3 separate regions of the Homo sapiens genome follow, and regions 1 and 2 are each linked to region 3. The links come from fine-mapping of genetic effects on gene expression. A gene starts in region 3. Each other region holds a variant in brackets. All regions are shown on one strand. Distances are from middle to middle.

Evidence for each region.
Region 1: its variant is fine-mapped to the expression of GLCCI1 in prefrontal cortex (ROSMAP, PIP 0.95).
Region 2: its variant is fine-mapped to the expression of GLCCI1 in whole blood (TOPMed, PIP above 0.99).

Annotation. Positions count from the first base shown.
Region 1 is chr7:8,064,903-8,073,082 of GRCh38, forward strand. GLCCI1 (glucocorticoid induced 1) reads left to right here. Exons shown (of 8, transcript NM_138426.4): 6 at 6,019-6,229. Among named protein-coding and RNA genes, the nearest start is that of GLCCI1, 100 kb to the left of the region's middle. The variant A/G (reference allele first, on the strand shown) is at 4,990.
Region 2 is chr7:7,833,150-7,841,339 of GRCh38, forward strand. The region is part of intron 3 of UMAD1 (UBAP1-MVB12-associated (UMA) domain containing 1); the gene reads left to right. Among named protein-coding and RNA genes, the nearest start is that of RPA3, 120 kb to the left of the region's middle. The variant G/T (reference allele first, on the strand shown) is at 4,566.
Region 3 is chr7:7,965,250-7,973,439 of GRCh38, forward strand. GLCCI1 (glucocorticoid induced 1) reads left to right here and starts at 3,547. Exons shown (of 8, transcript NM_138426.4): 1 at 3,547-4,558. The coding sequence starts at 4,102. GLCCI1-DT (GLCCI1 divergent transcript) reads right to left here and starts at 3,503. Exons shown (of 5, transcript NR_110018.1): 1 at 3,295-3,503. RefSeq lists silencers at 3,370-3,519, 3,730-4,129, 4,210-4,269, 4,360-4,439 and an enhancer at 4,920-5,009.

The DNA of each region.
Region 1 (8,180 bases), 100 kb after region 3:
AGACGGGGTTTCACTGTGTTGGCCAGGATGGTCTCGATCTCCTGACCGCGTGATCTGCCCACCTCGGCCCCCCTAAAGTGCTGGGATTATGAGCGTGAGCCACCGCGCCTGGCCAGTGTGGCCATTTTAACAATATTTATACTTCCTATTCATGAGCATGGAATGTTTTTCTATCTGATACTGTCATTTCTAATTTCATTGAGCAGTGGTTTGTAATTCTCATTCTAGAGATCTTTCCCTTCCTTGGATAGCTGTATTCCTAAGCTATTGTGAATGTGATTGTGTTCTGTATTTGTCTCTCAGCTTCGATATTGTTAGTATATAGAAACACTACTGATTTTTGTATGTTTTGTTTCTTAAAACTTTGCTGAAGTTGTTTATCAGATCAAGGAGCTTTTGGGTAGAGACTATGGGATTTTCTAGGTATAGAATCATATTGTCTAAAACCAGGGATCATGTGCCTTTACTCTTCCTATTTGTGGCTGTCTTTTATTTCTTTCTCTTGCCTCATTGCTCCAGCCAGGACTTCCAGTACTATGTTGAACAGGAGTGGTGAGAGGGCATTCTTGTTTCATTACAGTTTTCAAGGGAATGCTTCCAGTTTTTGCCCATTCAGTATGACGTTGGCTGTGGGTTTTTCTTGGATGGCTCTTCTTATCTTGAAGTATGTTCCTTCAGTGCCTAGTTTGTTGGAGGTTTTTAACATGAAGGGATGTTGGATTTTATTGAAAGCCCTTTCTGTATCTATTAAGATAATTATGTGGTTTCCGTTTTTAGTTCTATTTGATGAATCACATTTATTGATATGCATATGTTGAACCAACATTGCATCCCAGGGATAAAGTCTGCTTAGTCATGGTGGATTCACTTTTTGATCTGCTGCTGGATTTGGTTTGCTAGTATTTTGTTGAGGATTTTTGCATCTATTTTTATCAAGGATATTCACCTGAAGTTTTTGTTGTCATCGTCATGTCTCTGCCAAGTTTTAGTATCAGGATGATGTTATCCTTATAGAATTAGTTAAGGAGAAGTCCCTCCCCCTCAATTTTTTTGAATAGTTTCAGTAGGAATGGTACTAGCTCTTCTTTATACAGCTAGTAGAATTTGGCTGTGGATCCATGTGGTTCAGGGCTCTTTCTGGTTGGTAGGCTTTTTATTACTGACTCAATTTCAGAACCATTATTGTTCCATTCAGGGATTCTCTCTTCCTGGTTCAGTCTTGGGAGTTTGTATGTTTCCAGGAATTTACCTGTTTTTTTCTGTATTTTCTAGCTTGTATGCACAGAGGTGTTCATAGTAGTCTCTGAGGGTTTTTTAATATTTCTGTGGAGTCAGTGGTACTGTCCCCTTTGTCATTTCTGATTTTGTTTATTTGGATCTTTTTTTCTTTATTAGTCTAGCTAGCAGTCTCTCTCATTCTTTCAAAGAATTAATGCAGGGATTCGTTAATCTTTTATGGTTTTTTGCATCTCAGTTTCTTTCAGGTCAGCTCTGATTTTATTTTTGTTATTTCTTGTCTTCTGCTAGCTTTGGAGTTAGTTTGCTCTTGTTTCTCTAGTCCCTCTATATGTGATGTTAGTTTGTTATCTGAGATCGGATTTTTATGTGGACCTTTAGAGCTTGTAAATTTCCCTCTTAACACTGCTTTAGCTGTGTCCCATAGAATCTAGTATGTTGTATCTTTAGTCCCATAGTTTCAAAGAATTTCTTGATTTCTGCCTTAATTTCATGGTTTACGCAAATGCCATTCAGGAGCAGGTTGTTTAATTTCCATGTAATTATATGGTTTTCAGCAATTTTCTTAGTATTGATTTCAATTTTTATTGTACTGTGGTCCAAGAGTGTGGTTGGCATGATTTCAGTTTTTTTGAATTTGTAGAGGATTGTTTTATGTCCATTCGTGTGGTTGTTTTTATATTATGTGCCATGTGGTAATGAGAAGAATGTATATTCTATTGTTTTGGGTTGAAGAGTTCTGTAGATGTCTATTCAGTTCATTTGGTCAAGTGTTGAGTTCAGGTCCTGAACATCTCCATTAATTTTCTACCTCAGTGATCTGGCTAATACTGGCAGTCGGGTGTTGAAGTCTCCCACTATTATTTTATGGACATCGAAGTCTCTTTGTAGGTCTCTGAGAACTTGTTTTATGAATCTGGGTGCCCCTGTGTTGGGTGCATATATATTTAGGATAGTTAGGTCTTCCTGTTGCATTGAATCCTTTACCATTATATACTGACCTTGTCTTTTTTGATATTTGTTGGTATAAAGTCTGTTTTGTCTGAAATTAGAATAGCAATCTTGCTTTTTTTCAGTGTTCCATTTGGTTGGTAGATTTTTCTCCATCCCTTTATTTTGACCGCATGGGTGTCTTTGCATGTGAGCCTGGTCTCTTAAAGACGCCTACTGTTTAGTCTTGCTTCTTTATGCAGCTTGCCAGTTTGCACCTTTTAATTAGGACATTTAATCCATTTACATTCAAGGTTAATATTGATATGTACATGATCCTTCATTGTGTTGTTAGCTGGTTACTTTGCAGACTTAATTGTGTAGTTGCTTTATAGTGTCACTGTTCTGTGTACTTAATTGTGTTTTTGTAGTGGCTGATAACGTTCTTTCCTTTCCAGATTTAGCAGTCCTTTCAGGACCTCTTGTAAGGCAGGTCTGGTAGTAATGAATTCTCTTACCATTTGCTTGTCTGAAAAGGATCTTATTTGTCCTGTGCTTATGTAGCTTAGTTTGACTAGATAGCCACTTCTCGCTTGGAATAGGCTCCAATCTCTTTTGGCTTGCCAGATTTCTGCTGAAAGGTCTTCTGTTGGCCTCATGGGGTTCCCTTTGTAGGTGGGTGACCTGCCTATTCTCTCCAGCTGCCTTTAACATTTTTTCTTTCATTCCAACCTTGGAGAATCTGATGATTATGTATCTTGGGAATGGTCCTCTTGTGTAGTATTTTGCAGGGGTTCTCTGCATTTCCTGAATTTGAATGTTGGCCTCTTTAGTGTGGGTGGGGAAGTTTTCATGGACGGTATCCTGAAATCTGGTTTCTAAGTTGCTTGCTTTCTCCTCATCATTTTTAGGGATGCCAGTGCATCGTGGATTTAGTCTCTTTACATAGTATTTCTCAGAGGCTTTGTTCATTCTTTTTTATTCTTTTTAAAAAAAATTTTGGCTAGGCACGGTGGCTCATGCCTATAATCCTAGCACTTTGGGAGGCCAAGGCAGGATCACCTGAGGTCAGAAGTTCAAGACCAACCTGGCCAACGTGGTGAAACCCCATCTCTACTAAAAATACAAAACATTAGCCGGTCATCGTGGTGGGCACCTATAATCCCAGCTACTCAGGAGGCTGAGGCAGGAGAATCTCTTGAACCCAGGAGGCGGAGGTTGCAGTGAGCCGAGATTGTGCCATTGCACTCCATCCTGGCAACAAGAGCAAAACTCCATCTCAGAAAAGAAAAAAAAAATTTCGTCTTAGTTCAGAGAACCAGTCTTCAAGCTCTGAGATTCTTTCCTCAGCTTGGTCTATTCTGCTATTAATATTTGGGATTGCATTATGAAAGTCTCATAGTGTGTTTTTCAACTCTCTGATCAGTTTGGTTCCTTCTTACAATGGCCATTTCATCAATCAGCTCCTGTATTATTTTATGGTAATCATTAGATTCCTTGGATTGGGTTTTTGCTTTCTTCTGAATCTTGATGACCTTCATTTCTATATTATGAATTCTTTCTGTCATTTCAGCCATTCCAACCTGTTTAAGAACCTTTGTTGGGTAACTAATGTGGTCAGTGGGAGGAAAGAAGACGCTGTGGCTTTCTGAGTTGCCAGAGTTCTTGCACTGGTTCTTTCTCACCTGTGTGGGCTGATGTTCCTTCAACCATGGTATAATTTGTACAGTCGGTTGACTTTTCGGGATGTTTTTAGAGTCTGAGGCATTGTACAAGGTTTTTATTTGTAGCTGACTTATTGTCCTTAGTTTCACAGGAGGGTTTATTAACTAAGTATTTTCAGTATTGAAGTTTGCACTCTGATTGAAGTTTGATGCCTCTTAAGCGTAATGGCCAGTAGGTAAGCTCTTGCTCAGCCACGTGGCTCTTCTGTATTTCCTCACTATTGCAGCTGCGCTCCCTGTCAGTGCTCTGAAAGTGTGGGCTCCTCTCCTACTCAAGTGCTGGCTGCAGATCTTGGCTTGGCACTCCCAGGCTGCAGCCCTGGGGTGAGCTAAGGCTTTATGTTCTCTCCCAGCTTGGAGGCAGCAGGGGAAGGGACCTTGGCAGTGGCTATGGCAGAGGGCCTTTCCCTTGTCTCTGGGGTCCACCCCAGAGAAATAGCAGAACTGCTGCCAGTCGGTGTGATTGGCTTTGAGTAGGACAGCTGCGTTGTGGGCTCAAGCTGGGGGGATCCTGGGGGAGACAGACTGACCTCTTCTTAGGGCCGTGGCAGCTTGCTGGAGGTGTGGTTAAAGCACTCTGGGTCTTTGCTCCTTTCCTAGTACAAGGGTAGCAAGGGCAGTACCACTGCAGTGGCAGTGGCAGAGGGGCTTTCGGTTGCCTCTGGGAGCTCCACTGCAGAAACACAGATCCGTTGCTACTGGGATGTTCAGCCAGGGGGTGGGGCAGCTGTGCTGCTGGCCTGAGCCGGGAGCCCCACCGGGTGAAAGGTGGGGTGCCGAGGGCTCACAGGGAGGACATGGGCTCCTCTCTGTATGGTGAGTATGTCATGCTAGCAGTGCAAGTAAAGCCCTCGGCCTCTCTGTTTCTTCTCTACTCCAAGGGCAGCAGGGGCAGAACTCTAAATGAAGTTTTCATTTGCATAGTTTCAGATTTCGGCCTTCACTTGTTTGGTATAGAAAATATTGATACATTTTGAATTTCACCTGATTTTACCTTCCTTCATTTCCCCTCTTGACAGTTTTTCTAAAATCTCTGAAATGACAATGATCAGAGTAAGAGCAGTAGACACAATAAATAGTGAAAATAAATTATAAATAA[A/G]TTAACAGCATATTGGTTCTTTTCCCTAGCACTGCAGTCCTGTGTGTTTAATAACAACAAATATTTTCAATTATATAACTTAATATAGAGAATTTTACTTGTTAACCTCACTTTGTTAGCACACAAATGAAGAATATGGAGTAAGATCTATTTTTACAGAAGCAGAGTAGTAAAGTAGAAAGAGTCCACTGCAGCAGAATCTCTGATGCCACTTAATTAGCTGTGCCACTGAACTATAGGTTCCTCATTTGTGAAAACAAAACAATGGACCAGTGAGCTCTGAGGTACCCTCAAGACCAAAATATGTGGCTCTATGATGATGGTTTCCTTTTTTTCCTTCTTTTTGCTACTGAGAACAAAGTATTCAAACTAAGGAAGATTATGAGTAGTCCTACTTAGTTGGATACTGAGTTAGTAGAATTTGATATCCAAATTCTTCTAATATTAGAATTCTTTTGAGTTACATTAATAAACTCTATTGAGTACTAATAGAATAAACCTCTTTATTAGAAATTTTGGATAATTTGCAAAGGAAATAGAAACTATGGTTCTGTTCATAACCTCTAAAAATTAAACTAGGAAGGAATGAACAAACAGAAAAATCTGTACCTGTGAATATGAGGAATATGAGATTTCACTTTTTCTTACAAGCAAGTCAAAGTGATTTTTTTTTTAGCTTTGTTAATTCTTTCAGCAAATGTTTACTGAATATCTGCCATGTGCCAGGAGTAGTGCCAGGCACAGGACTCCCGCTGTCCTTGAAGAGTTTTGTGGGATGTGCTGACCTACAGGTACATACAGTGAGCTATGGAATTTTTAAGGCAAACAATTTGATTTAAAAGAAATGTTTAGTTCAATAAAGGTAACATACGCAGAAATTAGCTTAAGACACAAGCTTGGTCTTTAGCCTTTGAAGAATAAACTGGGTCAGTAGTGGTGGAATATGAAATCAAGGGAAATACTATGTGCTTTCTATGTAGATGAATATATGCACCAGCATTTGGATGTTTAATGGTATTCCTCTTACAGCCGTTGGACATACCAGATGGTCGAAGAGCTCCACTTCCTGCTCATTACCGGAGCAGTAGTACTCGCAGCATTGACACTCAGACTCCTTCTGTCCAGGAGCGCAGCAGTAGCTGCAGCAGTCATTCACCCTGTGTCTCCCCTTTTTGTCCCCCGGAATCCCAGGATGGTAGCCCTTGCTCAACAGAAGATTTGCTCTATGATCGTGATAAAGGTAAGAATGGAATTGTCCACTTAGAGGGTTTGTTATGGGCCTTGCTCATTATACCTTGTCTTAGACCATTACATCTTTTTTTTTTTCTTTTGTTCAATGGTGACATTGTCAAAGATTGGTTAATCTAGGTTTCTTTGTTCATTGGTTTCACATACCCCCTTTTTTGTGACTCTAACAAACATCTTCCATAAATGTGTCAGAGAAGCACAGCGCATGGTTCTAACAGCTAATAAAAGCCATAAAATGGAGTGTGTACAACTTCATATAATGCATAGGTCTTTTCCTTGGTATTGTCCAGAGCGGATGATGGTTATGGTAAAGTTAGCTTTACCATGGTAAAATCAAGCTTAAAGTTAGATTTTATAATCAGATTGATTTGCGAGGAAATAATTTCTAAAAATTCTGTTGGAAAAAGTGAGTGTATTTTTAACCAAGTTTATAAAGCTTAGTGAGTATCTACAGGACATCAGGGATTTTATTACAGTATGTAGATAAATTATTAACTGTTGAGAACATCTGGGATTCTTATTTCCTATCAAGCCCAACTGTCTCTCCATGTTCTTCTATCCTTGTGTCTACTTGTGTACACCAACACTTCCTGGGTTCTTTCTGTTTCTAGCCCCCTAAGACCTAGCTACAGAAGGCCATATAGACTGCCCAGCTTCTTCCTTCCTAGCTACTTACAAAGAAACACTGAACTTATGTTTATAACAAATTTACTGCTTGTCACCATAGAGAAATAGGTCAATGGCAACAAAATTGTAAAACTATAAAAAGTTAGACAGTTTATAAAATCTTGCAGGAGTTTTATGGTCCTTGTTCTGAATTGACCCCATCCCCTATGATTGATGTATTGTTGTAAGTAAAATGCCCAGATCATAAGTGCTCAGCCAAATGAATTTTTACATATGTGTGTGCTCCTGAAACCACTACCTACATCAAGTATAGATATAGAAGATTTTTATTATCCCACAAGGCTCCCTTGCGCCTCTTCCCAAATAGTATCCTTCCTCTCTCCACTTGAAAGTAACCACTTTGCTGACTTCCATCACTATAATTTAATTTCCCCTGTTACTAGACTTCATAGAAATTGAATAATGTGGTATATATTCTTTGTGTCTGACTTCTTTTACTTATCATTATACCTAACTCTTCTAAGATATTAAATGGAAGCTACTTTGGACTTTGTCCTCTGCTTTTCTATGTGGGTAGATCTTAACAGTTCTCCCCTTTCTTGTTGACTCTTTCATTACTGAAGGCCTTGTGGACCCCCTTCCTTCATTAAGGATATATTGAATATAGTACCAGGTGTCTTTGGCTTCATGTGGGAAGTCTCCATTTCTTAAAATGTCAGACTAGGAAATTTTCATTTCACTGAAGCATCCTGTGAGAATAAACACCTTTAATCACTTCCTCACAACCTTTTAATGTGGATGTTTCACAATAAAACATCTTGCTTCCAGTAGGAGTGTTTGTTTTGAAGGTAAATGGAAATGATAAATAATAGTAACTTGTTTTAGGTTGTGTAGGTGGTAAATGGAGAAACCAGTCTGTCTTCATTCCAAACTCATATTCTTTGTTATTAAGTACAGTTCAGGTTGGCCACTTTTGCTACTTAACACTTGTAACTGGGGTAAAAATGAAAAGTAGAAATAATGGTGGCAGTACAGCTAGACAGTTAAGTCTGGAGTTCTGTTTTCTTTAATACTGTGGATAATTGAGAGATGCTGAACCAAAAAGAAAATGTATTGAGAGGATGGTAAATGAGTTCCATTTTGGTTAACTGGTTGTGAGATTGCCTTCAGGGCCTCCCAGTGAATAGTGGTTTCTGTAGTTCACAGGTCTTCACTTACATCATAAGTTTCAAACAGTGCATGTTCTTTAATATATAATAGCTCTTTTTCCTAAATATGTATAATCAATTTTATTATGAGAAAGTATAATCATGTCA
Region 2 (8,190 bases), 130 kb before region 3:
GGAGGCACTGCGTGGTTTTGATGGAGAGTGATAGACTAGAGCTGGGCTGTGAAATCGGGCAGGCCTCACCATGCCAGATGAACTGCAGTGGAACAGACTACAGGAGAACAGATACACTCAGCAACGTTGTGGAAATTAAGACCAGAGTCATCTCTGGACTGTTGGCATTGGGAGTGAAAAAGAGAGTTACTACACACATGAGGCATACTGTGGTGTTAGTATTTCTTGATATCGGCAACTATCCTGACATGTGACCACCGAGGGGGATTCAGAGATGGGCAAAGTACAGTTGTTAACTTTTAGGAATTTAGAACAAGCTGTAGACATAAGAAAGGTGCTTCTGTCTGCAGACTGTAGTAAGTACTCTACAGAGTGCAGGTGGTCAACATGACTGGGAAGAAAGAGGTAAGTACCTTCAATTAAAATAGGTTGTCAGGAAGCGGGCAGATTTCAGAGAATAACTCTTGGTAATTACCATACTATGGCACATTTACACAAATAGGCAAAGATGGCAGGATAGGAAATATAGTTACTGGAGCCTATTAACCTTTACACTGTGAAAAACGAATTAGAAAAACTACACATATATGCTAAATATACAAAACCATAGTTCTATGTATGTCTTTAATCATGGAATAGCAGCCAGAACATGGTGGTTACTTTTTCAGGTTTTATTTGAAATACTTGAAATGAAGATGCCAGAGAGGAACAGTATTCTCCTATCTAATCTTACAAAAGTCTGCTTCCCATCTTATTCTGTCAAGCACTGGTTTCCAAGGAGATTCCGTGGGTAACCTATCATGTCATCAGTCTCAAGAATGTGGAGATCTACCCAAGTATCCCTAACATTTCTTTCTTTTTCTTTTCTTTTTTTTTTTTTTTTTTTTTTTTGAGACGGAGTCTTGCTCTGTCACCCAGGCTGGAGTGCAATGGCGTGATCTCAGCTCACTGCAAACTCTGCCTCTGGGGTCAAGTGATTCTCCTGCCTCAGCTTCCTGAGTAGCTGGGATTACAGGCACCCACCACCACGCCTGGATAAATTTTGTATTTTTTATTAGAGGCGGGGTTTCACCATGTTGGCCAGGCTGGTCTCGAACTCCTGATCTCAGGTGATCCACCCGCCTCAGCCTCCCAAAGTGCTGAGATTATAGGCATGAGCCACCATGCCTGGCCTATCCCTAACATTTCTAGATAACCTGATATGATCTGTCATCCATAAATTTCCTATCCTATTTCCCAGGCTTTTTATATTTTTAGACTGCACTCCACCATGTCATTGGACACTGTCTCAGTCTGCTCAGGCTGCTGTAACAAAATACCATAGACTGGGTGACTTAAACAACAGACATTTATTTTTCTCATGGTTCTGGAGGCTGGTAAGTCTAAGATCAAGATTCTGGCCAATTCGGTTCCTGATGAAGAACCCCTTCATGGCTTGCAGATGGCCACCTTCTTGCTGTGTCTTCACAGGCAGAGAAAGAACTCTCTCCCTCTTCTTCCTATAAAGCCACAAATCCCATCATGAGGGCCCTACCCTTATGAATTTCTCTTACCCTAATTATCTCCCTAAACACCTGATCTTCAAATACCATCACATCGGCAGTTAGGGCTTCAACATATGAATTGAACGTATGGGTGGGGGTGTGTAGGGTAGAGGAAGAGATACACAATTAGTCCATAGCAGACAGTGAGCTTGTAATTCAGGGAGATACTACCAATTATTTTTCAGGACACTTACAATCAGGGCAGAAGGCGAAGGGGAAGTAAGGCATGTCTTCCCACTGTGAAGCAGAAGAGAGAGAGAAAGCAAAGGAAGCCACACATTTTAAAAAAATCAGATCTCTTGAGAACTCACTATCACAAGAACAGCATGGGGGAGACTGCCCCCGTGATCTAATCACTTCTCTCAATAGATGGGGTTTACAGTTCGAGGTGAGATTTGGGTGGAAACACAGAGCCAAACCATATCATTGATCCTATTATGTTTTATTCACTTAATCTGTCAAAGACTATGAGAAGTATATTAGTCACTCATCATTGTAATTCTATCATTTTCTGTCTGTATTTCTGCTTTTTTATTGTTTTGTGTGTATCTTGATCTTGTTATTTGAAGCAAGATTTGTGACTTAAATTCCATTATAGGTTTTATCTTTTATCAACAGCAAAAATGTCTTTATGTATTCTAAAAGCATTTTGCTGTCACTTTTATATGACATTTTCATTGTAACTTCTGCTTTCTTTTTTTTTTTTTTGCTTTAAAAAAAAATCTTGCTCTGTGATTTTCATTCATTCATTCACTCATTGAAACAGCACTTTTTTTTTTTTTTTTTTTTTTTTTTTTTTTTTTTTTTAGCTCTTAGCAATATATAGAAGTGAGCAGGACAGCCGTGGTCCTTTCTTGGGAAGTTTATTTTCTAGTGTGGGAAATTGTACAATAAATAAAATAATTCTAATAGTAGTAAGTGCTATGAAGAAAACACAATAGTATGCTAACATGATAAACATCATGATAAAAGGCCTTTAAGTAGCAGTGGAGATTATTTGTCAGTTAATAAAGGGATTTAAAACAATTACATTTACTGAAATAGCTGATATGTGTATGATCTTACATCAGTTATCTTATTTTAGGTTTTCTGAGGTTTTGTTTCCATTTAGTTTGTAGTCTATTTAGTTTTTAGTTCCATTTAGTTATGAGTAATATCTTGCTTTATTTGCTTGTTTTCTTCTCAATTGGTTTGGAAGATGATGTTATTTTTATTTACATAAGTGGATATTTTTACATTCACTGAAAACATTCTCTAATCTAAATTTTGCCTTTTTATCAAATCAAACAATTATATCTTTTGCTTTCTTCCTGTAACATGAGAAATTTAATCATCCACGGTCTTGCTATTTTATGGTCTTTATTAATATAGTCTTAAAGATTCCATTTAATTAATTGTATTAACTGTACTTAATAGGTTTTCTTAGCTACAATAATTATACCGACTTCCATATTTAACAGCTTTTAATGCTTACTGTCAATTTGTGTACAATAATTTAACCTTTCTGAATTTCTTAATTTTAGTGGTAAACGTGTTTACATATTACTTTATAAATGTCTTCAGTATATTCTTAAGCTCTTGGATATTTAAAAGTGGTTTTCTATGGTCTTTACAAAGGAACAGTAATTTTACTAGCTATAAAAGTCTTATGTTATAATCTTTGGTTTGCTCAAAATGATCACTCTATGGTTTTCTGGCCAACCTGATTTTTCTTCATTAGTAGGGAATATGTTTTATCTTTTCTGTTTCATGCTATAATTTATTTTTTATACCTTTGAAGTTTAGAAATTTACTATGTATCAAGATAGGTGTGTCTCAAGGCCAAGTGAGAGTTAGCAAAAACAGGTTACAGAGTCAGATCTGCAAAGGTCTCAGATATTGGTATATCTCATATAACACAAACTAAATATGTTTACTATATTTAAATAAATAAAAGGCAAACTTAAAATATTATAATGATCATGAGAATTAAAAATTAAGTGTATTTGGGAAAAAATAGAACATTAGAAATTAAAAACAGTTATTCAATGCATAGGTTAAAGAGTATATTAGACATAAGCAAAGAGAGATTTTATAGGCTAGAAAACAGATCTGAAGGATTACTCAGAATGTAACACAGAGAGACATAGAAATGCATAATAGTAGCATGAAGGATATAATGAAGAGGTGTGTCTAACATCCATCTTAATGGAGAGACAAGGTCAGGGAATGGGGCAGGGACAATATATGAAAATTAGGAGCTAGGAATTTTCCAAAACTATTAAAAAAAAAAAATCTGTCTTCAGATTTAGAAAGCCCCCCAAACACAAAGAAGAATAAATGAAAGAAATCCACATTAGACATATAATAGTGACTCAGTATAACACCAAAGACAAACAAAATGACCTTAAAAGACTGCCTTAAAGGAATTAACAGAACTAAAGCTGATTTGTCAGTAACAGCACTGGATCCAAAGGCAGTCAAATAATATCTTCAAAGTGGTGAGAAAATATAACTCAATCTAGAAGTCCATGTTCAGCAAAAATTTGAAGATTAAGGGCAAAATAATTTTTTTCAGATATATAAAACCTGAGTGAATATGCAGCAAGAGACTCTCTCTAAAGGAAATTCTAAGTGATGTACGTCAGGCTGAAGGAAAATGATCCCAGATGGAAGATGTGACCTACAAGAGGGAATGACGAACTAAGAAAGTGGTTTATATGAGAATAAATCTAAACTAAAATTGATTGGTGAAACAATAATGTAATGGCTTATAGCCAACAACTCCGTAGAGAAGTGATTAGAGTGAAAGCATTCTAAAGTCCTTGCTTTATGTAGGAAGTTGGTTAAAACAAAAACAAAAGCCACTGACTAAGTATGCATGTTAACATTTCTAGGGTATTCACTAAAGAAAAGAAATAGTATAACTCTAAACTAGTGGAGATTTAAAAAGGAACAAAAAAAGTTAGTCAACCCAAAAGCAGTTAAAAAAAGAAGAGAAAAAGAAAGGGAGACGAAGCATAACAAGATGATAGAACAAAT[G/T]TGAATATATCAGTTACTATACTATATGTAAATTAAATTTTCCTGTTAAAAAGCACAGTTTATTAGATTAAATTCAAAAGATAGACTAGCTTTAAAAATCTAAATACAGTACTGTGGTTTACGTGAAAACCCTACATAAGGGTACGTAAAGGTTTTGAGAAATAGGGTGACATAACTACAAATATAGGTGGAATGAACTTTAAGGCAAAAGGTGTTACCAGAGATAGAGGGTCACAAGATAATGGTAAAAGATTCATTTCACCAGGAAAATATGACACTTCTAATGTTGTATGCCCCCAATAACAGACTAAAATTATATAAAGTAAAAAATGGACAGAAACACAAGGATAAAAAGAAAAAATGTCATCAGAATTGGAGGTTGGAATCTACTTCTTTTAGTAATTGATTTATTGAATAAACCAGGGATCAGCAAACATTTTCTGAAAGAGAGGCCAGATAAATATTTTAGGCCTTGCAGGGCGCATATAGTCTGTTTTGTGTATTCCTCTTTGCACCATACTTAGCTCATTGGGCCATACAACAACAGGCTAAACAGATTGAGTCCACAGGGTATAGTTTGTTGACCTCTGAAATAGAGAGTAAAAATTAGTGAGGGAATACATGATTTGAGCAACAGAGTTAATAAGGTTGATATTGACCATACACGTATGGAAGAGACATTCTTCTCAAGGATGCATGGAAGATTTATGAAAATAAGAAGCATACAGGACCATAGAGCAAATATCAATAAATGGTAAAAGATTATTATCTTACAATCAACATTATCCAGTCAACTAATACAATTAGTAAAACCACTTTTAGCAATAATCTGGCATTTCTTCATTAAATACGTGATTCTTTCATGATCCAGCAAGTTCATTCCTGGTCATATGCTCTGGATGAACTCTTGTACACTGATAGACATACAAGAATGATCACAGTGCTATTCATGGTAGAAGAAGCTAGAAACAACACAAATATCCATCATCCACAGAATGAATAAATAAATAATGTTTATTCACAAATGAAATACTCTTAAGGATATGAAAATAGATTTAAAACTGCTTCACATAGCAGTATGGATGAATCTTAACATAGTTTTAAGAGAATAAAGCAAACCACAGAAGAATAAATACAATTATGAAATTCAAAACATGCAAAGCTATCCGATATATTATTTAGAGAGAAATATATAGATATATTGATCTATATATTTGTCATGTAGCTATAAAGAAGAGCAAAACAAGAATAAACGCAAAATTCAGATTAGCATTTACTTTCTAGCAGGGGAGGAAAAGGAATAGATGGGAGTGAGAGCAGACTCCAGAGTTCCTGGTAATGTTCTGTTCCTTAAATTGGGTGGTGAAACACAGCTGATTGTTGTATTTTATTCTTTATGCCTTACACATATTATAGTATCTCGTCATTGTTTAATAAATGAAATAAATTACACAGTGGGGATGGAGTAAGGAAGTATGGAAACAGCAAGGGTGGGCACTTTTTTTGTTTTTTGAGACTGGGTCTTGCTCTGTCATCACCCGTTCTGGAAGGCAGGTGCATAATCATGGCTCACTGCTGCCTCAATCTCCTGGGCTCTGCCAGTCCTCCTGCCTCAGCCTCCCCCAAGCTGGGACCACAGACACATGCCATCATGCCAGGCTAATTTAAAAAAAAATTATTTGTACACATAGGGTCCCCCTATGTTGCCCAGACGGATCTTGAACTCCGGGGCTCAAGCCCTTCTCTTGCCTCGGCCACCAAACCCGGCCAGATGAACACTTTTTTTTGAGCCTTTTTACTCTTGCTGTACACGAGAGCAGAGCAATAGAACAGTAGGTTGGAGGGAGACAGGAGTAAAAGGGTTTCTTTGTAAATAGGACTTACAATAGCATGTTCGAATGCTAATAGGAATGATCCGGGAGAGAGGGGGAAAAGTCATAATAAGGAAGAAGAGAAGGTAGTTTCAAGAACAAAGTTCTTAAGAAGCAATGCAATCTACAAATGAGTGGTTTGGCCTTAGGGTCAAGTTGACAAGTTTAATGGGGATTGGGGAAGAATATATGTTACAGTTGCATGTAGGTTGGTAGGTTTGTTTGTGGGAAGATGAAGATCACATCTAGAGATTTATGACCATAAATTTAAAATGAAACTAGTCATCATGATTCTGTGCTTTCCTCCAACTCATATCCAGCTGCTCAAGTGCCTGCAGGTTTGCAGTTGGCAGAAAATTGGGCTTAACTGAGGTTGAGGTTTTGCTAGCTGAAAACATGGTCGGAACAAACAGGCAATGGAATTGGGGTGTATACAATGATGAAACAGAGAATTCAAGCTGGATGAAGAAAGAATAGACATGATGGTGACCTAGACAGTGCAAAAATGGACCCCCCATTTTGGGGGGCAGGGCAGGTCACAAAATTGGCAGAGTGTAGCTTCCAGAGTATGTGAGGCAGATTGTTAGGTAAATAGGGTTCTGGGGTTAGTGTAGTTGTTAGTGTCAGGGTCTAAGATGATCATGGGAATACCCAGCTCGGTTGAAAGAAAAGGATTTTGGAGGACATGGAACTGAGAGGATGAAGTGTTGGATGGGTTGTATATGCTCGTGGTCTTCAACCCCGACTGCACATCAGAATAATCTGAGGGACTTTCATAGAATATTGATGCCCCGGCCCCACCCCAGACCAATTAAATCAGGATCTCTGGGTGTGGTTTCTCGGGAATTTATATTTTAAAAGAGCTCCCTGAGTGATTGTAGCGTGCATTTAGGTTCACGTAGCTACGTGAATGTTGGCATTGCCAAGCCAATAAAAGAAGCAGTAGAGAGAACTGTTGTAGACTGGGGGACTATGGGAGGAAGGAGGATTGATTCAGAGGATCCCCGACTACTTGAACAGCACTTAGCACAATTTATTGTATATAGTGTGCACTCAATTAATGGTAGCTCTTTTTATTTTTGTTATTATTGTCATCATCATTATTATTGACAGTGGCAATAGCAGCAGCATTATCCTGGGGAAAGTCTCCAGATGTTTTATCAAAGGTTCTTCACAGAAGGTTAAAAAGCACTAGTTTTAGATGATCATCAAGGAAAGTTCCTAATAAAGTTTGGCAAAAAAGCTAGAAGTTAGCAATATTCTGAATTGACGTTCTACAGTTGTTGTGAAGCTTGGAGGAGTTGTACTCCATCATAGCCTGGCTTAGCAGTCTGCACTTGTCAGAAGCCAGCAGGTTAGGAGTTGGGTACCTTCTTTTCTTATGTCAAAAACCTAAAGGCTAAGACAGCTGGTTGCTATTTTCCTGCCAATAGGAACCTTAGAGCCTTTTAGTTGTGTTTCAGTGTACCTGTGCCAGGGTTGGGATTGGGAAGAGGAGACAGGGATTAAACATATAACATTCTAATATTTTATTTTACATTCCCAAATTACTTCGTGTGCATGTATACACTCTTACTCCCTTCTCTGCAAAAGGAGTATTATGAGTCGGGTAAACAGTACTATTTAAAGCTAATGTGTACTTGTGGGTACTTTAGTGACTCCCGAAGATGTGGTTCCACTGAAGAATGCAAGGAATTATAGCTACGAACTGTCAATATAACAAGTGATCTTTTTTTTTTTTTTTTTTGAGGCCA
Region 3 (8,190 bases):
AGGAAAGCTCTCATCATAAAGGTGGTGACATTTGAGTAAAGACCTGATGGAAATGAGTGAGCAAGCCATGTGGATATCTGGGCAAGAACCTTTCAGGCAGAGGGAACACCTAGTGCAAAGGTGCACGTAGGCTGTCACAAGCAGTAAGGAGTTTAATTTAAGCATCTGCCAGGGACAAAAATTCAGTCAAGGCTTTTTTGTTGTTGTTGCTATTAGGAATCAATCTACAAGAGAGTTTAATCAGCTTAAGATGAACATCAGTGCAGATCTGTTTAGTGTTCTCTCCCAGCCATGACCTCATTGCAAATACTGACAGCCTGGACTGCCTCTCAGATTTGGATGGGCCTTGGATGCTCAGCCAGGCAAACCCAGATGGAGCTAGAAGAGGAAGGTTTTGGTAGCTCTGTGGGCTCTGTGGCTTCTTCATCTTATGATCTCTCCACATAGGGCTGCATATAAATCGCATGTAACCAATGATTCCAAGTTTTAATTTAACCTAAAATGTAGTCTATTACCATATTTGCACTAAGAAGAAAGTAGAACAGAATTCTACCTCAGATTAGCTAATGGCAGATCCTCGTCCCACAGATAGCCATGGCATGGGGCTACTGATACAGAAGTATTTCTCATGCCACCAAATTGTGCCTTCAATTTTGTCTTCTTTACACAGGACAACATAGTAAGAGGTCATTGTTAACATTAAGTCTTATATAAGATTTTCAGAGATTGTTACACTTACATTCAACCAGTATGGAAAATCGGCACTAGGCCTAACTACCCCATAGCTAGCATAGTAGCATAACAACGCTCTTCTAGCCTAGCAATCCACATCTCATTCTAGGGGGTTTCCAATTTACTAAGAACATTTTCTTAAAGCTTCTATATATCCTTGGAGCTTACTTTGTCCTCAATAAGAATAAAATATTATCAAGAACTCAACAAATGGACATTTGAAAGCAGGCACTGAGTTTAATTTATTTTAGGCCACCTTTGATTTGTTTGAAGCCTGTATTCCTTAAATATGAAGATCAGTACTTACGTCGTGAGAATAAAGGTTTAAGAGACAACCAAGGTTTCTATAGCAAAGAGAAACGACTGAGCTTCTAGATTGGTCATAATGACTTACTAGTAACTGAAAATAGTATTTTAAGATCATACTAATTCTCTGTTTCTCTGTGTGAGTTATTTAGATTTGCTTTAGATGTCTAAGTCAGCTGTGGTAGATTTGAACAAACACAGAAAGTCCTTAAAATATGACTAGGTATGTTGCTTTAGATCCAAATTAGGTATTGATCATTGTGATTGTGACCTAGAATAAATTTAGAATTATTGTAACCTAATGTGTTGAAGTTGTTCCATAAATATATTTAGGAGTAGCTAGAGATGACATTTCTATAATGCAACTATGCTGTAATCAAAGCAACAACTCAGAAATTTACCAGCATGTAAAAGAAAAATCTTAACTTTTTTTCTTCTTCTTCTTCTTTTTTTTTTTTTTTTTTTTTTTTTTGAGACAGGGTGTCATTCTGTCACCCAAGCTGGAGTGCAGTGGTGTGATCAAGGCTCACTGCAGCCTTGATCTCCCGGCCTTTTGGGCTCAGGTGATCCTCCCACCTCAGCCTCCCTAACCGCGTCCAGCTAGTATTTTTACATTTTTAGTAGAGATGGGGTTTTGCCATGTTGCCCAGACTGGTTTCAAAATCCTGAGCTCAAGTGATCCGTCTGCCTTGGCCTCCCAAGGAGCTGGGATTACAGGCGTGAGCCACCGCACCTAGCCAGCTTTACATATTTTTAATCTGTCAGATTTTTTGTTCTTGCTATTCTGAGAAAAGTCACTGAAAAGAAATCATTTATCATTCTTTTTACACACAAAATAATGCAGTTTTTAAATTAATGAGATAGGCCATTTATATAAAATTTGAAAGAGTAAAGTTTTTATTCATAATTAAAATATATGTTATTCTGGAAAACAAAAAAAAAGTAGTGGTCTGTCTTCATTTGTAAAATTTCCTTTGAACTGATGGGAACTTATCTCACAGATGAGATTTGTGGGCCATTGTGAATACTCTACAGATTATGTACCCCACAGCTTTGAGCTGCCAGGTACTATAGCAGAGTGCTTCCTCAGACTCTTGAGCCAGTCTGTCTGGGTGAAATTTTTAGCTCCCCATATACTAACTATGTGATCTCAGGCAAGACAGCTTATTTATGCCACAACTGAGACCACAGTAAGGATAATAATAGTATCTACCTTGTGGATTATATGAGGACTGAATGAATTAACACACATAATGTTCTTAGAATAGCGGCTGGCACATGGTGAATAAATGTTAGCTCTTATTATAATATGTGGTAAACTGAGGAACTATCACTAGTTTTACTTGGATGAAGTACTGCATGAAATTTTTGTATTTTTATTGAGTTTCATCAATTTTTTTACTGAACCTAGTATGCTTTCTCGTCTGAACACACAAGGAAGAAAAGAAGGATGGCTCCTGTACGTGAAAGTGACCCCTGCATATAGTGCCTGAAATCAGAGGAAGCTTGTCAGTGTGGGCAGACACCACGAGCAGACCAATTTGACATTGTGCTTCTCTTTTAACCTCTTGAAAATTAATGAAAGTTATCTGATGAAGATCCTTACATTAATTGCTCCCGATTAAGGTTTAAAACCTTGGTTTACTGTGGGGTAAATTTATGTTTTTGATAGTCATCCAAAATCTTTGTACGCTTTCAGTTTCATTACAGAATAAAAAACAAATTTACCACAATGGATTATTACATTACATCTGGTATTTATTCCTCCCAAGAAGCTATCTGCTTCGGAAAAGCCAGGGGCGCCCTTCATTAATATATCTAACTGATGGTGTAATGACATAAAATTCCTTGTTGACCCCTGCTATTCAGTGTTATTGTCTTGGAACATAGAACTTGATAATCTCTTTTCACTGCATAACTACAAATGTTAGGCTGTAAGAGTATTTTACTTTGTTCAGTGCAGGTTCCAGACATTTCTCCTGATCACCAGAAGTTCTTTTGATTAATAAGGCTACTGGTCACGAAAACTCAGCTTACTAAAAGAGATCCAGTCTTCTGGTTCTAACTAAAACATCCCACCGGATGCAGGTGTACTTGCAAATTAAAGTTTGCCTCATGTGTCCTGTGTCTCAAGTCATACAGACGGCCCAGGAGGGTGGAGCCCCTGCAACCTGCCTAGCGGGGCGTTTGCGTGTCTGGGGGTGTCGGGACACGCGCAGGACACACACAGTCCCACTTTCCTAGTCTCGCACTTACCTCAAGGCTGTCAACTTTTACGCTCCTCCCTGCGCGCACAGCCCCCACCTCACGCTGCCACCCCTCACGCCCCGCCTTCAAAGTAGGAGGCACCATTGTCATTGGACACTGCTTCTCTCACTCCTATTCCAGAACCAATCACTCGAGTTCTAGTGGGGAGCGCCTAAGCCAATGGAAATGCTCGCTGCGGCAGCTGCCGGGTCCTGGGCGCTGGGAGGCGGTGCCGGGGGCGGGGTGCGGCTGGGGCGAATTAGTTGCCATTCGGAGTGAGGAGTGGGTAGAAGCGGCGGCGGCGGCGGCGGCGTTTGCGGTGGCGCGGACTCCGAGGAGCGCCAGCACCTCGAGGCCCTTTCTCTCTACCCTGGTCCCCAGAAGCAGGGGTCCCGGCCCTCCTTGCAGCTGCCGGGTTCTCCCGTGCGTGCAGCCCTGCGAGGGCTGAGGAGAAGGCTGCGAGCGGCCCTCGGGGCTGCGTGATCCGGGCCGTTGCCCTGTCAGCACGATGCCTGGAGCGGTGGCGGCGGCGGCTCCGGGCTCCTTGCGGCCCCGGCCGTGACCGCCACACCGAGCCCAGCCGGGCGGTTGCGGCCGTTGGACGTTTGTTTTCGCAGCCTTCCCCTCCCCCCTCGCCGAGGCGGCGGGGGTGTGCGTTGGGGAGGGGGAGCCCCGAGACTCCTCCCCCACAGCGATACCCCCGCCCCTCCCCCTTACACACTCGCACGCACTATCGCGCCGGCTCCCACACGCTCGCGCGCCTCCCGCCCCGCGCCTCCGTGTCGGCCGGCGGCGTCCAGGGCCCGCAGAGCCACCATGTCCACTGCCTCCTCCTCCTCCTCCTCCAGTTCCTCTCAGACCCCTCATCCCCCGTCGCAGAGGATGAGGCGCAGCGCCGCGGGGTCCCCGCCCGCCGTCGCCGCCGCCGGGAGCGGGAACGGTGCGGGCGGCGGCGGCGGCGTGGGCTGCGCCCCGGCTGCGGGAGCCGGCCGGCTGCTGCAGCCCATCCGCGCCACGGTGCCCTACCAGCTCTTGCGGGGCAGCCAGCACAGTCCCACGCGTCCGCCCGTCGCCGCTGCCGCCGCCTCGCTGGGCAGCCTCCCGGGGCCCGGCGCGGCCCGCGGCCCCAGCCCGTCCAGCCCGACGCCGCCGGCGGCCGCAGCCCCGGCCGAGCAGGCGCCGCGGGCCAAGGGCCGCCCGAGACGGTCCCCAGAGAGCCACCGGAGGAGCAGCTCACCTGAGAGACGGAGCCCCGGCTCGCCCGTGTGCAGAGGTAGCGAGCCCAACCCTCCCGTCCTCCCGGGCTGCGTCTCCCCGACGGTGCCCTCCGTGGAAACTTCAGCCTCTTCGGGCTTCTCTTTGCTAGTGCATTATCGAAGGTGTGAAAGTGGCTTTGGGAATCTCACCCCCCTGCGGTCGCTGTGGGGCTTGGAGGAGCGAACTGAAAAGCGACTTTTATTTGACCCTCATGCCGCCCCTCAGAGTCTCTCTTCCATCACTCGCCTGCTTCGAGAGGTTTTTCAGTTTAAGAGCTGGCTAGCTCATTCGTGTGTTTGCCGTTTGTAGCCGGGGAAGGAGAAGCTGGGCGAAACACTTAACACGCACACAAACTCTTCAGCAGCGGATAAGGTGGCGGTTGTAATCTCTACCGTCTCTTTGTGCTTTTCTGCAAAGTTCCTAACGTGCCTGTAACTACCGGGATAGTATTTTATTTTTTAGAGGGTTGGTGGCATTAGTTTCGATGTAAGGATATCGGCTGGATGTAATGATATCTGCTAGAGGGGACAGTTTTGAATGTACAATTGAAGTGTATACGGTTTTTTCCCTCAGTCCTCCCTCTCTCCCTCTCCCCCAGCCCCCCGCCACCCCGCCTCTCTCTCTCCCTCTCTTTCTCCCCCTCCCCTTTATATATTCATGCATCAGAGCACTCCTGCACTGGAAACAGTTTGTGCTCTACCGGAGATTTTCATGGTAAATTTCTGAAAACTTATTTGTGGAACGTGTTCGTTTTTTTCCTTCCATTTTTAAGTACACTTAACAGTTCAGTTGAGCTGTTCAAGGATCTCAAGTTTCTTTTTTTGTTAGGTGTCAAAGGTAATGGTGAGCTGGTGGATGCTGTGGGTTTCCCTTAGTGTTTTCTGTTTTGCTTTGGTTTTGTTTATGTCTAGGGACACAGTGCATGATTTAGTTGAGCCCTGGGGGAGAAAAGGAAGATTAGCCAAAACAGGGACTTAAAGCTCATAAGGGAGAGTGGAATAGCTAATATTGTTAGATACCGAACTAGAGCTACAGATGCTGCTGCTGCATTGTGGAGGGAACAGATCATACTGGGTGGAAAAATCTCTGCTTGGAAGGGAAACACTGTCAAAGTCTGTACATTGTTTATGTGGTATGTGGAATTTTTTTTTTTAATGGAGCTTTCTTGATGAAGGTGTTAGAGTTGGAGAAAGTGGTTGTCTGCATTATGATACATTGCAGTCTTGGTGTTTTTGTTTTAATATTTCAGACCCGTAATTAGCATGTTGCTAACGCACTTGTTTTCTGACCACTTGATGGTGAACCAGTGTAGGATGTAGTGCAGTGGGATGAGTACATGAGCAGCAAGAAATACATCCTGTAATCTGTATGCATTGGGAGGAATATGCTCCTGCACTCCTCCCCCAGGTCAAGCCAGCTGCTGCAGAAACTGACATCCTCCAGCAAATCCTGAATGAATGAATGAAAACAACGTGATCGCCCTAATAATGACCACAACTGAACACACATCTTTGGCTGTATTTTATAGAAAAGGCCACCATTTTCTAACAGATTAATGCCATATGCAACTCCTTTGCACATTTTCTAGAACTGTATGAAATGAGAAGTAACAGAACGAACAGAAAACAGTTACATAAATTTTTTAGTGATTTCGCTTCAACAGTGCACAAATTGAGTTTTGGGATTTTCTTGTAGGGACTAAGAGGCATAAAATAAGCATTGCAGATTGTGTACAGAGGGTCTGGTGGGTGTGAGTAAGAGAAGTTTCGGCAATTGCTGCAACAACATAATGGCCATCTAGTACCTCCTCCCCTTTTGTATATAAACACTAACATCTTACAACGGATAATAGTACAACTTGTTTTTCTGCATCCTTCAAAAGGCTTAATGGCCTAGGAATTACATGCTCCATCATCAAGCAGTTTTAATAAAATTTGTGATCTGGCTTAAACTATTCTCTTTGTTGTAGTGTGGCACATACGAGTTTAATGCGATTTTAATGCAATCATGATGAAAACACTTTTCTGAGTCTGGTTGTGCAGCAGACAGATTTGCAGTGTCAGAGAGCTTGTGTTGGGAATGCAAGGGCTTTCTTTGCTAAAGATGTTTTTCTGCTGTTTTAAACACCAGGTGGTTTTGTCAGTTTCTTACATTGCAGTGATTTTTGAATGCGGGCTTCTGTGCCCCCAGTTCCGTGATTATATTACTCCTATGTTACTTCTCCATGTCCCGCCTTTTACCCCCACTACCCAAATTAAAACTGTCCTACTAAACTGTTCTGTTTCCTTAGCCATTTAAAATCCATGATCTGAACAGTTGATTTAATTTTTCGAATGATTATCTTCTCAATTTCTTTTGAATGCTGTAAGGTTCTGACTTGAGTGGATTTTAGCCTCCACTGGTCAAGGTTCCTGCCGCTGCCACTGCTGCTGCAGACACTGACATCACTATACTGCATGAATGAAAAACAACAACGTGCTCCATTTCTTCCTCTGCTCTCCACCTCCTCCTTTTTCTGCACACTTCAGTGTATGTGTGTGTGTGTGTGTGTGCGCGCAAGAGGGTGTTAAAACTGCGTTTGAAACTACACTTGAAAGCATTAAGTAGTTGATGGCTCAAGGGGTAGGTATATAGTATAAAGGCATATTGTTTATGAAAAGCTGCAAGGGCTATGGGCATTTCGACTAAAGGTGACATAACTGAGCATTCAGTGTTTCATGCATTTCATCTGGAGTGATGATTATAGGAGAAAATATGGAAGCTTAAAAATGTTTTTATGATTCTTTTACCAAAAAATTATGAAACCACTCAATTTCTAAATAAATTATATCATTATCTGCGTCTTAAGCATTCTTAATGTGAATATTTGTAGGGCTAAGGCTAGAGTAATAGAGAATTGATATTCAGATTGTTTCACAAGGCTGAGGAAAAGCTGAATTCTATAAATAGGAATAGTCAATTTTAATATTATTATAATATTAATTTATACAACCCAGGAAAAAATGATAATTTCCTTTATTTTTGTAGTATAGTTTTAAATAATTTAAATGGTTACCATAATAGAAATACGTAAATTGCCAAATACCTTGCTGTATATATAGCAGACATGGAGTTTTACAAATTGAAACTGTTTTGTTTGTGCTCATGCATCATCCTCTTTTTGCTTGTTTTTTTTCTTTTGTATTTTTAAAACTTCAAGGTTTGTTATTTACATTCATTCCTGTACTTCTGCCATTAGTAAAATGTCATCCTCCCTCTTGTTTGGTTCTGAAGGGTATTGCAGTGGTGAATGACAGGCTGCTGAATGAATCCTCAGGCTCCCTGTGATGTGTTTGTAATAGACGTAAAATCATAAAGTATTATGCAAATAGTTATTTTTTTGTAATGGTAATACATAAAGTCTACCTTTGAGATAAATAGAGCAACTCAAATGAGAAAAAGCAGGATGTTAGTGTTAAAATTAATGATCTTTAAGCTAAAATCATTAGTAACAACCAAAAGAAAATATAGTAAAGTTGCTTCTTTTTGAAACCTCACAGACCAGAACCCATGGATTTAAACATAGAACAAATACAGTTTTACTGTCCAAGATAGTAAGTAGGAAATGCAAATCTTTGTGTGCGTGTGTGTGTGTGTGTGTGTGTGTGT